Homo sapiens: one gene and its partners. The protein of the gene in region 4 interacts with the protein of the main gene of each other region in a biochemical or structural test. Each region holds a gene or a part of one and is shown on either strand. Other genes may lie near its edges.

Evidence for each region. The genes of interacting proteins can lie anywhere in the genome.
Region 1: the proteins of RIMS2 (region 4) and PBK interact in a test that uses a peptide from one of them, tested with the Homo sapiens proteins (one large-scale study listed by IntAct).
Region 2: the proteins of RIMS2 (region 4) and SLC15A5 interact in a test that uses a peptide from one of them, tested with the Homo sapiens proteins (one large-scale study listed by IntAct).
Region 3: the proteins of RIMS2 (region 4) and DOCK4 interact in a test that uses a peptide from one of them, tested with the Homo sapiens proteins (one large-scale study listed by IntAct).

Annotation. Positions count from the first base shown.
Region 1 is NC_000008.11:27,820,714-27,824,331, reverse strand, and holds part of PBK (lymphokine-activated killer T-cell-originated protein kinase), read left to right. Parts: intron 1-1,126; coding exon 1,127-1,269; intron 1,270-1,843; coding exon 1,844-2,013; intron 2,014-3,618. UniProt on the Homo sapiens protein: Phosphorylates MAP kinase p38. Seems to be active only in mitosis. May also play a role in the activation of lymphoid cells.
Region 2 is NC_000012.12:16,239,582-16,243,199, reverse strand, and holds part of SLC15A5 (solute carrier family 15 member 5), read left to right. Parts: intron 1-3,332; coding exon 3,333-3,519; intron 3,520-3,618. UniProt on the Homo sapiens protein: Proton oligopeptide cotransporter.
Region 3 is NC_000007.14:111,730,796-111,734,413, forward strand, and holds part of DOCK4 (dedicator of cytokinesis protein 4), read right to left. Parts: intron 1,493-3,618; coding exon 1,431-1,492; intron 1-1,430. UniProt on the Homo sapiens protein: Functions as a guanine nucleotide exchange factor (GEF) that promotes the exchange of GDP to GTP, converting inactive GDP-bound small GTPases into their active GTP-bound form. Involved in regulation of adherens junction between cells.
Region 4 is NC_000008.11:103,503,528-103,507,145, forward strand, and holds part of RIMS2 (regulating synaptic membrane exocytosis protein 2), read left to right. Parts: intron 1-3,618. UniProt on the Homo sapiens protein: Rab effector involved in exocytosis. May act as scaffold protein. Plays a role in dendrite formation by melanocytes.

The DNA.
Region 1 (3,618 bases), about 76 Mb from region 4:
GATTAGAATATGTTATGGAAAAGGTGAAGATTGACTTGTTTACTAAATTCTAAACTTTCAAGAGCTAAACTTTCAACCCTTGAAATTTGAAAAATATATTTTTCATAATAAAATGATATGCAGGTGCTCATCATTATCCTCAAATGCTGCTGTTATTTAAAACTGGAGGTTTAAGAATAGTTTAGATCAACTTACGGATGATAGATGTACATGAATTAAGAAATCTTGTGATCCTTTTAGTATAGGCTTTTTGATTAAACAAAAAAGGTTCTGCAGTCTTAGAGCTATACCTGTGAGGGAGTCCAAAGCTAAACAGATCTTTGATTCAATCTCTTGTTTTGTGTTCTTACCATTAAACTTTCTGTCTTAAACTTCTGAGGCTCTTTCACTAGGTTTTGTGCTGTTATGCTGCATATACTTAAGTATTTTGTGATTTGCTCTACTCATAAATATCTACCACCTCAGGTAAACCTTTCCCTGACTTTATTTTACCTATTTAGGCCTTAAAACATTTATACCTTAAATATTTGTAAAATGGCTGAATCTTCCTAGAAAATAGAAAGTTTAAAATTTTCTCATTTGTATGTTCATCATTATCTCCTTAAGCACATATCTTTGAGCATGTGGTAAAAGGTATAAGGTGAATTGGTCAGTGTAGGGGAGCAATAAGAACAGCATGCTGTTCTTTGGATGATGATATATGGGTAAAATGTTCTTGATTATCTCTTCTTTAAATTTCCTAATGTTTTTTTCTTCAGGATCCTATAACTCATCTCTGATACATATAATTAAATATTTAATAAGTTGTAGTCCAACATGCTCAAATGGAAAAATTGGAAAGTTACAATTTTCAGGTTTAAAGTTTGTAACATTCCATCTTTACCCTTCAAATTCTTTTCATCCTCTCCCTTCCACAGTATAGATAGTAAGACTTGTTTTAGTATATTAGATCTTACCTCCCAATTGAAATGGAAATGTAGCAGAGGTGTTCATAGTCCAAACTATTTTAAATTCTGTTTTTAAAAGCAAATTTCTTTCAAGCTTTTTCCCAAAAATTTGGAAGTCATTTTAAAAAGTATTGTGGTTTTATTGTTTTCTATCCTTTTTAAATGAATTTTTTTCTTAGATCTCCAAGAGGTTTGTCTCATTCTCCTTGGGCTGTAAAAAAGATTAATCCTATATGTAATGATCATTATCGAAGTGTGTATCAAAAGAGACTAATGGATGAAGCTAAGATTTTGAAAAGCCTTCATCATCCAAACATTGTTGGTACGTTTAAATTTGGTAGCAGTATCTGGTATATTATTTTGTTTATTCAGAAACAGCTTATATGCTCTCTTAACTGGTTTCACTAATAGAAATGAAGAGGATGGGGCTGGATATTTAATGGGTATCAAATTAATGTGATTGGTCTAAAATAAAAATTTGCATATAGTATTTTTTGATGCCTAAGTATATAAACTTCATGAGAACAGATATAATAATTATGTTGCTAGTTCTATGAAGATTTTAAGAATATAAAATGATCTTCATTTAGATAATTTAAATCCATTTAGGTAATTTCCTGGATTTCATTTTTCATTTTTAATACAAGTAGGGCTGGTGAAACTATTATATTTAGGGAAGCAAAGGAAAATAAAAGTATTTTAATTTGTGGTACTACTGGCAAACACTGAAGGCATTTTAAATGAGATCTACTGAATTAGTCTTGTAAATAGTAGCTGTTTCATTGTATATTTGTCAGCGTTAGTCCAGATCCATATTTTCAATCACGTTACTATAAAGGACTTAAATATTATTGTTCTTCTCTATATTAGTGAAGAAATGTCATGTTTTCTTTAAGGTTATCGTGCTTTTACTGAAGCCAATGATGGCAGTCTGTGTCTTGCTATGGAATATGGAGGTGAAAAGTCTCTAAATGACTTAATAGAAGAACGATATAAAGCCAGCCAAGATCCTTTTCCAGCAGCCATAATTTTAAAAGTTGCTTTGAATATGGCAAGAGGGTTAAAGGTAACTATGTCATTATATTTTAAATGACTTCTGTTTTTGTTCATATTTTAAATGAACAAATAATCACTTTGCAGGACATCTTTGAATGTGGATGGATATTGTTACTTGTCAGTTCCAAAAAGGGGTTAGCGGAAAACAAAATAGAGGCTTACATTTCTGCTTCCAAATTACATTCATGTGTAGCTTAATATGTTCTGAGAAATGTGTCATTTGGCAGTTTCATCACTGTGCGTGCGGACATCATAGAGTGTACTTACACACACCTAGATGGTAGAGCCAACTACACACCTGGGCTATGTGGTATATATAGCCCAGTTCTCCTAGGCCACAAACCTGTATAGAATGTTACTGTACTGAATACTATAGGCAGTTGTAACACAGTGGTAAGTACTGTGTGACTAAACATATCAAAACATAGAAAAGGTAAAATCAAAATATGATATTATAATCTTATGGGACCACCGTCGTATATGTTGTCCATCATTGACCAAAACATCCTTATACGTACATGTGGCCCTAGTCATTCATTGTCCCACATGGTCTCAACAATTTATGTATGCTTCACTGAAGATTCCAAAATTATTTCTAAAAATTACTAGACTAGCCTCAAAATTGTGGTATCTTTTGAAATCTGCAGTTGTATCTTCTGATATAAAGTATGTAGGATTAGTTAACTTACCAAGTTAACCAATTTATAAGTATAGTTAACTTATAAGCTGTCGGTATATATACATACTTATATATAAAAATAGTTAACTTGGCTGGGTGTGGTGGCTCACGCCTGTAATCCCAGCACTTTGGGAGGCCAAGGCAGGCAGATCACGAGGGCAGGAATTTGAGATCAGCCTGGCCAACATAGTGAAACCCCATCTCTACTAAAAATACAAAAATGAGCCGGGCATGGTGGCGGCACCTGTAATCCCAGCTACTCGGGAGGCTGAGGCAGGAGAATCGCTTGAACTTGGAAGGCAGATGTTGCAGTGAGCCAAGATCGCGCCACTGCACTCCAGCCTGGGCAACAAGAGCAAGACTCTGTCTTGGAAAAAAATAGTTAACTTATAATTATTTATTTTATAAGTATAAAAGGTTAGCAGAAGTATCTATTTCTAAATAAACTTTTAGACTTCTGGTCAGTATGGCAGACTGAGATAACATGGGATGTTCCCTTCTCTTGTTTCAAATACTTTGAAATGCTGGGCACAGTGGCTCATACCTGTAATCCCAGCACTTTGGGAGACTGAGGCAGGCGGATCACTTGAAGCCAGGAGTTCGAGACAGACCAGCCTGGTCAACATGGTGAAACCTCGTCTTTACTAAAAATACAAAAATTAGCCAGGTGTGGTGGTGCCCGCCTGTAGTCCCAGCTACTTGGGAGGCTGAGGCAGGAAAATCACTTGAACCCAGGAGGCGGAGGTTGCAGTGAGCCGAGATCGTGCCACTGCATGCCAGCCTGGGCAACAGAGTGAGACTCCGTTTTAAAAAAAAAAAAAAAAATTTTGAAACGCTGGACAAATGTAAACCTAGAGTTTAGGAAGGGAGTTCAAGTTGTTATATTTGGAGGTTATCACATTTTTTTATTAGTTTGTGTTTCTGCACATATGTGTT
Region 2 (3,618 bases), on a different chromosome or scaffold from region 4:
AAAAATATATAAAATTTAAATTTTAGCGTCCATAAATGAAGTTTTATCAGAACATAGCCATGCTCTTTGTTTTGTCGTATCTATGTCTGCTTATGCACAAAAATAGCAGAGTTGAGTAATTGCCACGGAACCCATATGTGGACATATTTACTATCTGGCCCTTTACAGAAAATTTCTTGACCTCTAGACTAAATAATGCATGAAAGCTAGTCTGATTTAGAAGATTCAAACTCCCTCTTGACTCTATAATAGCAGTAGGCACAAAAACAGAATACAGCAGAAATATTACCCATATATGTAAGCATTAATATAATAAAACATCTTAGATTGGAGGAACCGATAAACAGTACAAAATTACTACATGGCCCATAGCTAACCTCAAAAGCTTATGTGCAAGTAGCACAGAATACCAGTTCCTTACCTTCATAATGCAATGACACCTGACATTTCTTTCCACTAAGTTGGACCCTTCTTTGCACACTGTCATATATTTTTTAATTGAACATAAATTACAATAAATTTTGATAAACTAATTTTTAAGCATATCACCAAATCTAGATGTGCAACTTATTGCAAAGCACAGAAACTAATAGTTACTGATCACCTATTAAGTGCCATAGCTTCTAAAAGATGGCTTCACAGTACGTAATTTAATCCCCACAGCAAGGCTACATGGCTATTACTCTCCTAAATCTGAGGCTCAGAAACTAAGTTGCAACTTGTTCCCAGTCACCTTGCTAATGTGTGGCAGAGCAACATCCCACCTCAGGATTAGTGTCAAGCGCCATGCTTTATTATCCTCAATATCACTCTTGCATTGGGTTAAAAGTCCCTGATACAAACTACATAGATTCCAAAATTATATACAGTAATGTTATGCTAGAAACTTCAAAGAAAATGCTTAGATCATACTTCACCAGGGAGGCAGAGGAATTTCCAATAGGATAGGCTGGGTTTAGTTTTTTGCCCCCAGATGAAATAATCACCAGTACAAAGGCAATCAAAGTACCAAGAATAAAACATCATAGAATTTCATACATATTTTAAATTTAGTAGCCATTATTGACCTTCAGTTGCAAGACATACATCTAAAATATGTTGATATTACGGCTGATGAGGTTGCCATTTGACATTACTGGCCAGTCAAAGGTGAGAATGAATCTCTATTGACAGCAATTATTTCTGAATACTCAAAGGCTTGGATGAAATAAAAGTATTTAAAATTTTACAGGGCGATGATTTCAGAACTTCAGGCAGAGGCAGAAATGATTTCAAGCTTTCAAGACACTGCAGCCTTTTCTAAGATTAGGCAATATATTAATATTGCTTCACTAAAGATTAATAGTACATTTGCCACATTATTAAGTTAACATATTTCTGTGTCTGTGATTCATGCCGATAATAACTTTATTCCTATTAACAATAATTCTCATTTGAAATCAGTAACAGAAACTTCCAAGTTGTGCTGGGAGCCTTTCAGTCTTAGAGTTGTTCCGCTGCCAGCACTTTTTGTTAAAACACATCATTCATTTTCCTCCGATGGGGGATCCATGCTTAATAATTTTATTGAAGTAGGGCAGAACTAACTAATGTTCCTTTAACTCTTGCCATCTGTACTCAGCCAAAACAATCCTTGTTTACTATGCTAAGGGTCAAATTAAAGATTGGGAGATAAATGATCACCAGGACACGTTGTCTACAGAAAGAATCTCAGTGAAAATGTGGTCTTGTCCTGTGTTTGCGCAGTTAACATGGCAATAGGCTCATTTTACAATTAGTGGACTTGGTAACAGCTGTACTGACACCATAATACTGATTCTCCATATATACCCTCTTGAATTGTACAATTGAGTCTAGAGAAGGGGTTAGCAAATGTTTCAAATGAGAAGTTATCATCTGGATATTTGAGCGAGGCTGCTCTCCCAGGATGGTGGTGAAGCAGGGATCCTAATGCAGCTCTTGTACCATACGAGTTTGGAGGATCCATTCCTCAAGAAGACTTGGTTGACTTTCTGTCTATGACACTCAATAGCTTTGTGTACCACTGGGAATTAAAGAAATACTATGCGCTACTAAAGATCATGATGGGCCGGGCACGGTGGCTCACACCTGTAATCCCAGCACTTTGAGAGGCTGAGGCAGGCAGATCACGAGGTCAGGAGATCGAGACCATCCTGACTAACACGGTGAAACCTCATCTCTACTAAAAATACAGAAAAATTAGCCAGGCGTGGTGGCGGGCGCCTGTAGTCTCAGCTACTCGGAAGGCTGAGGCAGGAGAATGGCGTGAACCTGGGAGGTGGAGCTTGCCGTGAGCCGAGATCACACCACTGCACTCCAGCCTGGGTGACAGAGCGAGACTCTGTCTCAAAAAAAATAAAAATAAAAAAGATCATGATGAAGCTGATGAAGCTGTAACAAAGCTCATGTACTAGAAAAGTGAAGAGACACCTCTTTCATGTGACATCATCCCTTGGTTCTGATATCACACTCGGTTGCCAAGAGGATTGGAATACACTAAGAGGCTCCAAATCAGTGTTAGAGTTTTAGTTAGCATTGGGGTTATTTTTAAAATGAAGAAATTCTAACAATACATTGAGGATTTGGGGTGGAGCACAGGGTTTTTTTTTAAAAAAATTGTATCTTTCACTTTATCATGCAAACCTTTTTCATGTTGTTTCCTTTATGGAATTCTAGCATCACGTAATTAGTTTGAAGGGAGGGCAAAGACACAAGGTTTTTTTTTCCTCCCCCTGTTACTTAGTTCACATTGGAAACAAAGCCTCTCTAAATAGCCCCCTCAAAGACAGCCTACAGCAATTAACACGTGTCCACATTGGGCCCCTCTTCTTAGGAAAAAGTCGTTTCTATATTGCCACCAAACTAGATGCTTTTTAAAGAATCTATTCTAGCCTCATTTTTTTCATCAGGGTAAAAACAGACGTCTTTAGTATTTTTTACTGGTTTTATATTAGTGTTCATGAAGAAAAGTCATTTTGCTTATCTACAGAATTTAAGTTATTTGGCTTTTTATGTGTCATCTTAAGCACAAAATTGGGGCCATCATTACTTTTCATAGAAAAATTAAGAGAGACTAAATGATGATAGAGTATTTCATGAGTAATGAGTACTATTGTCAATAGACTAGACAGAGCTCCTACCACCACAGATGAAGACCCTTTATCAGCTCATAACTGGGAACTTGAAAAACTAGGCAACATCCAGCTCATCCATCACAGAGTACGTGCAAGAGGGTAGGCCTCTGGTGGACGATGCTTTCTTCAAAGTTAAACCCCTGTCTTAATGCATGGATGTTTCCCTCTCGAATACAGATTCCTTCAGGATATTATCTGCAAACTATGAATTCCAACCTGAATTTGGATGGATTTCTTCTGCCGATTGCAGTAATGAATGCCATCAGCAGCCTACCATTACTAATTCTGGCTCCTTTTCTGGAGTATTTCAGCACCTGCCTGTTTCCCTCTAAGAGAGTTGGATCATTTCTGTCAACATGCATCAGTAAGTACAATTTAACCATTTCATGCGAATCGTTTGAAACTTTTTTAAAACAACATTCTGCTAAGATCCGAACTAGCTATATGCTCCTGAGTAGTGTCA
Region 3 (3,618 bases), on a different chromosome or scaffold from region 4:
GCTTCGAACTGCATATGGCCAGTAAAAATGTACACAGGTCTGCTGAGAGACAGTATATACCAGCTTGCTAAGACTATTTTATAGCTATTCAAACATTTTTAGCTCTTGGGTTCTTTTTAATGTTTAAGAATTAATCTCTTAAGACTTATTTTCTTACTACCCAACAAAATTTAAGTTGAAAAATACAGATGATAATTCCATAGCAACGTGTGGGAGCTCTGTGTGAGTAAGGGCAAATGTAAAAGTGCGGAAAAGCCATGTTGCTTTCCTTTCTATCACATCGAGGTGACAGGCTATGACTTCCAGAGTGAATGCTGTCACAGGTACTTCATAATAACAGCTGCATTACAGAATGAGAACAAAACGAGCAAATCACTTGCACTTACCCGCGAATTTCTACGTCAGAAATTCTGGCAATGCAAGGGAATCACACTTCTTTCAATTTTCTCCATTTTGCGGGGGGAGGCGGGTTGTTTTCCCGTTTCTCAATTTCTATCAGCAACTATCGTTAGCACCACAGATGCACTGGATCGCAACCTGCCCCTATGTGTTTGTAGAGGCTAATTTGTCTTTTGCACATTAGCTAGAACTAGCTCATCACACAAAGGACATGGAGCGTGTAAATCCTAAGTCACTCAGGTACAAAATCATTCTTTCGACACACTTCATATTTGCCTCTGGTGCAGCAGTTCTGAACACCAATCTCTCACGTACTGACAATCCTTGAAGCCGGTCTGATTCAATTTGGATAAGACTAAATATTATTCTTTATCTTCATGAGGGATTTTTTATGTTTAAAGATGTTAAATAGCCCATGTCTACAAACCAATTCGAATGTCTGACCTTTACAGCTTTCCAGTTTGTTCCCTAGAAATCTTTTAAATCCATATTACTGCCTTGTTTTTCATGATCAAGTATGTATTTCTAATGTAAATGAGAAACTTGGTATAAAATATTAACAGAGAATGTTAGGTTTGGCTTTGACAAAATGGGTTTGGCTGACGATAAAGGCAAAAAGACACAGAATATTTAGTAGATCTTGATACTGATGTTTCTCAATCTAAGTGTGTGTGTGTGTGTTTGATGTACCTTAAACTAAAAGGCCAGGCTGAAAGTTTCCTAGGAGGTACATTAGGACCACATTCCTTTCCTAATTCAGTATATGCACTGACTTCAGTCTGCAAGTTCTCACTGCTACCATTTGGAGAATGAGGCTAATAATCGAAAAACAAATGGCTGCGTTTGTGCAGGAGGCACCCAGAAGGGAAAGTCCAGTGTTGTTTTTCTCAACCAGCTTCCCCTATCCCTGATTGATAAGTTCTTTGCCTGGTCCCTGCAAATTAAAGCACCTTTTGATATATCTGGGATGAGTCTTAGAGAAAAAGAAAACTGGGCCAGTCTCTAGCCTCAGTCGAAAGAAGGGCCTTTACCTTCAATGGAGATCGCCCGGCAGGCGAGGGGGATACTGATGTCGTGTGTCTTGCTGGTGAAGCTGTCAATGGGGAGAGAGATAACATTTCAATTAAGAAAAACCAGACGATTGACTATCTGCACATGCCCTCTGTGTTACAAACCCAAACAGATGATCCAGTGCATAAGGACCTTCTAAGCAAAGGGGGTGGTGAGGATGGGGGAGAAGCTAAATGATGCCTGTCTAGAATGGGTTCTCACAAAGGGTGGCACTGCCAAGATATGGGAGCATCAGTGAAAAGTTATCATGGCATATATGATGCTTTGACTATTGACAGGTTCCCAAACTGATCCAATGTCCTTTCCGTTTCCCCAAAGTCCAGGTGCTTCTGCACTGCTTGATCTGTCTCATAAGGTGCTTTTAGGTGTGAGATGCTAGGGAGCAGTTCTTGGGGAACAGCTGTTGACTTTGGCGTGAGCACCAATGGGAACACCATGGCCACCCCAGCAGCCTGGAACAGGTCTACGGGAACATATTTAATCAGCTCCCCCCAAACAACCCCAGTACTCCCCAAATAGGTAGAAAACCCTTGGCCATGGCCATACAACAGGTGCATGGTTTTCCATTTCTTCCCCTAATGCTTGTACTCAGGTCTTCCCATTATCCCCTGGTGGTGGGTCTCTATGGATTTCATCATCGTGGCCAAGAAGAGTGAACTGTTTGCTTTTTCTCACTAGATTTTCAAGTCCTACACCTGGAACACAGCATGTGTGATAGCACTGTTCCTGTGTGCATGCTTGTATAGCAAATCCAGCTCTCTAAAGCATAGCCCTGTATGGTAAAGGCTGGCGTGACACAGTCAACAGGGTGAGAGTCAGCCACATTTCTCAATTCCACAGAGACGTTTCGGTGAACTCTGGGTATGTCGCTCTGTGATTAGCTGCTACTCTCCCAGCTGTCACAGTGAGGTTTGCAACTCACAACTACTGAAAGGCTGTAAGAAAGAAAGACAGTTACAGAGCCCCACAACAGTGACCACAGATGATGACATAAGAACAGACCATGAGAGCAATCAGTGCAGAAGGGATGGCAGCCCTGCCAGTTAACTTGGGAGGGGTAAGGTCATCTGTGTGCTCTGGGTCCTAAGGGGTCAGTGAGAGTGCTCCATGATCACACTGGTAGTGTGCAGCCTCTCTCTTGCACTCTTGAATGCTGGGGCATGCTGTCAGCACGTGTCACATTCTAATACCAGCCTTAGTTCTCCTATCCTGTTGATCGTGGGTGCTGATTATGGAAGAAAATCACATCTGTATGGAGAAGCTGATCCTGACGGAGAACTATGTTCCTGCCTTAACGGTGGTAGAAAGTTGATTGTTCCCTAGGACCCTCTTCCTCCTGACTCAGGCAGTTGCTGACACCACCATGGTGGCCCCTGCAACCACAGCATATTTGCATCAATATTATTCCTTAAAAAATGCTTTTCAGGTTCTCAACTTTAGGGACACAACCAGGTTTAAATTGGAGACTGCCTGAATATATGTACATCGTGAATGAGATACAAATAGTTTGGCCGATAAGTTTTAGGCCTCTGTACACATACTGATATACTAATGCAGGTGATCAATAAGCTTAAAGTTATTTCTTGTTTTCTTTGAAGACCTCATATGTCTCTCAAAAATTATTGGTGACTTGACTTTTGGCTTTGACAAGTATAGAGTAAACTAGGTGGCACATAGTTTATTGTGTTTTGTGGCAAGGTCTCACTTTGTTGCCCAGGCTAGAGTGCAGTGGCTCAATCTTGGCTCACTGCAACCTCTGCTTCCTGGGCTCAAGCAATTCTCCCACCTAAGCCTCCCAACTAGCTAGGACTAGAGGTGTGTGCCACCATGCCTGGCTAATTTTTGCATTTTTTTTTGTAGAGATGGGGTTTTGCCATGTTGTACAGGCTTCTCTCAAAACTCCTGGGCTCAAGTGATCTGCCTGCCTTGGCCTCCCAAAGTGCTGGGATTACAGGTGTGAACTACCTTATTTGGCCCAGGCTGAAGTGCAGTGGTGCCATCTTGGTTCACTGCAACCTCTGACTTCTGGGCTCAAGCCATCCTCCCAAGTAGCTGGGACTACAGGTGTGTACCACCACACCTGGCTAATTTTTATATTTTTTGTAGAGACGGGGTTTTGTCATGCTGCCCAGGCTGGTCCCAAACTTG
Region 4 (3,618 bases):
TTTCTTTTTAGTGCTGTTCATTACATTGAAAATTAACATGTATTTTAAGAGTAGAGAGAAAAATAAACTGAAATTTAAATGCATGTCTGCTGCCTTTTAACATTTATGTTAAAAAATACATTTGATGTGTGAAGATACTGCAATGGTTAGATAAAAATATTTTTGCATGATCTGTGAGTTTCAATGTTCATATTAAGTATTCATGCAAAGTGGAGAGAAAGAAGGAATTTGAACCTTATTAATATTTAATATATAGATGACAATACCTAGATGCATATAATTTTAAATATGCATGTAGTGAAAGATTCATGCTTGAGATATTTTTAATAAGAGAACTGAGTGATCAAAACTGAGACCATTACTGTTATCTCTCACCTTAGGAGCCTGAATAATTAAAAGCTATTCCTAATTATTAGTAATTTCCTCAAAGTCCAGCTGAACATCCACATAGGAAGTCTATCATCATCAAATAATACCATTTTACATATGAGCGAGGTACTATAATTTTGGAAGCATTTAAAAATCTCAGTAGAACCCTAATCAGTAATTACTTTAAAGAATCCTTTCATGTATTGCTGTAGCAGTTTAAATTTGGCTAATTCAATTTATCAGTAAAATTTATAATGTCCTTTTACTGACTAATGTTTTTTTTTCAATCTTCCAAGACATCTGAATGATTAATGTTTTTAAGTCTTGTCTTTCAAGATTGTAAACTTCTTGAGGGCAAGAATCAAAATTTACCCTTTTTTTGAGTTTGTGTTTTGCAGCATCCTTAACACCTGCACGTAATAAGTACTTAATAAATTGTGTTTATTTAAATTGTGGTAATGTTAATGAGGTAGCTTATCAATTTTGTGGGACAATGAGGAATCATTGTTTGAAAGAAAAACATAATTTATTAAAAGTTGAATTTCCAGTGGGTTTTTGTGTAATTGTGAAAAAATGTCTGAGGAAAGCAAACCCACTAAATCAATAGAAAAGTATTCAGTAAATACTGAGTTTCTAATATGTACATATCATAGCCTTTCAGATAAGCTTTTTGTAACACAAATTAGAAATTATGTGTTTCTTGATGTGTATATTTTCATTCATAGTTTAGATTTTCTGTTAAAGGGTTAATTTGCTTCCCAAATAAAGGAAGGCAATAAGTAAAAATTTTCCTGATAGGTTAGGATAACAATTAGTATATATTTAGCACATATATAGTGAGCAGTTCTCTATTTTTTAAAATAATTCAATTTTAAAAGTATTTTCTAAAGTTAATTTATAAAATTTTGAAATAAAATCTTTTTTTTTCTTTCTTTTCTTTTCTTTCTTTCTTTTTTTTTTTTTTTTTTTGAGATAGGGTCTTTCTTGGTTTGAGGCCCAGGCTGGAGTGAGATGGCGAAATAACGGCTCACTGCAGCCACGACCTCCTGGGCTCAAGCGATTCTCTCACCTCAGCCTCTGGAGTAACTGGGACCACAGGCAGGTGTCATGACACTCGACTAATTTATTTTTTATTCTTGTAGAGATGAGGTCTCCCTATGTTGCCCAGGCTGGTCTTGAACTCCTGGGCTCAAGTGATCCTCCTGCCTTGGCCTCTCAAAGTGTTGGGATTACAGGTGTGAGCAACCCGCAGCCCCCAAATTTCTTAGCTACCTATTTCCCCTACCCAGAGCCAACTACTGTTACTAGTATATTTTATATTGTATACTCTTCTAGAGACAGTCTATGCATAAGAATAAATACATGTGTATATATAATATTGTGTGTGTCTGTATATGTGTGTATGTGTGTGCTCATACATGTATGTATGGATGGATGTAAACGTAAAAACAGAAATGTGTCCTGCAGTTTGCTTTATAAGAGGTCAGTTCCACATCTGTGACTGTATAGCTGCCTCGTTAACCTTAATGGATATAGGATATATACTATCCCTTTTAATGAATATTCTGTAATTTCTTTAACTAGTACCATATTTGTGGGTATTTAAGTTTTTTTCTAAGTATTTTGTCATTAGAAATTTTTAGTATTTATCACAGTATTATCTGTGATAAATATCTTCGTACATGCATTTCCTACATGTATGAATGTATATTTGAGACAGATTCCTAGAAACAAAGTTGTTGGGCCAAAGGGTTAGTATATTTTAAATTTAATAAATATTGTGAAATTTACTTTTGTAGAGGAAGTGTGTATAAGTGGTGTGTACTAAGGGGACTTTCCCACATCCTCGCCAACTCAGTGTATGGCAATCTTTACCAATGTTTCAATGAAAAAGATGCCACTGTAGACTTATTTGCAATTTTCTTGTCAGAAAGATTGAGAGCCTTTTTAAAAAAATTTGGTTACAGCCATTTGTATTCCCTTTTCTATTAGTAATTTTTAGTGATTTGTGGAGGCTCTCTTACATGTTATTTGTTTTAGGACCTTGTTTATGCCTTTTTTACTGGTCACGATTTAAAAAAATTGAATTTATTGTAGTTTTGTTTTATGGATTTTGAGTTTGTGATCTTCTTAGAATGATCTTCCCTATTCTAGTATTTTTAAAAAGTACCAATTGAATCATGAATACTTTTAAATAAAAATTGCATATGTAAACCACTGTTGCCATTGCCAAAAAAATGAAAAACTATAGTTTTTAAGGATTCAAAATGCATTCTAAAAAATTGATTGACATTTTATAAGAAAACAAGCAAACAAAAAATTGACTTATATTTTATGAAAGAGTACCCAATAAATTTATATATATTCTATTTTGAAATAAGGGCAATTAAATAATATCTTCCTCTTGACAATAGATTTTGATAAAGAACTAATTATATTGTGCGATGAAGAAAGAGATAGTGGAAGCAAGTGTGATAAACCAGATGAACTTTGACTTGACACCTTACTTTACTAATTAATAATGGTAACGTTTTGCTTATATTATTAAACTCTGAGTTTCCTCATCTATACTATTTGAGTAATAACACCTATTTTGAAGGATTGTGATTGTTATTATTAAACTCTGAGTTTCCTCATCTATACTATTTGAGTAATAACACCTATTTTGAAGGATTGTGATTGTTATAGACTAAGTATCCTGGCATAAGTAGTGGTGCAATAAATAATCATTATTGTTAACTGACATAGATAGCACTCTTTAAACCTTATCATAGGATTGCTGGGTGAAATTTTCTTATTTTCTAAAAATTGAGAGATTCTTTTCCTTGTCTATTATGAAGTCAAAATATGCCAGGAGGGCTTTTAAGCGACTTCATTATTTGTTTAGAAGACTAGGGATGGGGAGAGGGTGGGTGACAACTTGAAAATAGTTTCCTCAGCAAATACCATTCTTAAGGAGCCTGATAACTAAGACATAGCAGTGAAAATAGCACTGACATCAAGTTATTGGTAATCGGCAAGATACTGATAGTCAAAGGTGAATTGAGGGGACTTACTTGTGGAAACTACTTTGTAATTGACTTTAGATTTGCCTTGGTTAAACTTTTTACTCTATTATTTAACTAAAATCTATATTTACCTATTTGTCTTATTCACATTGTATCTAAGAACCCAGAGAACCGTATTAGGTTAAGCTAATTCTGAAGTATGGTTATTGAGCTTAGAATGCTGATCTTCACATCGCCCCTC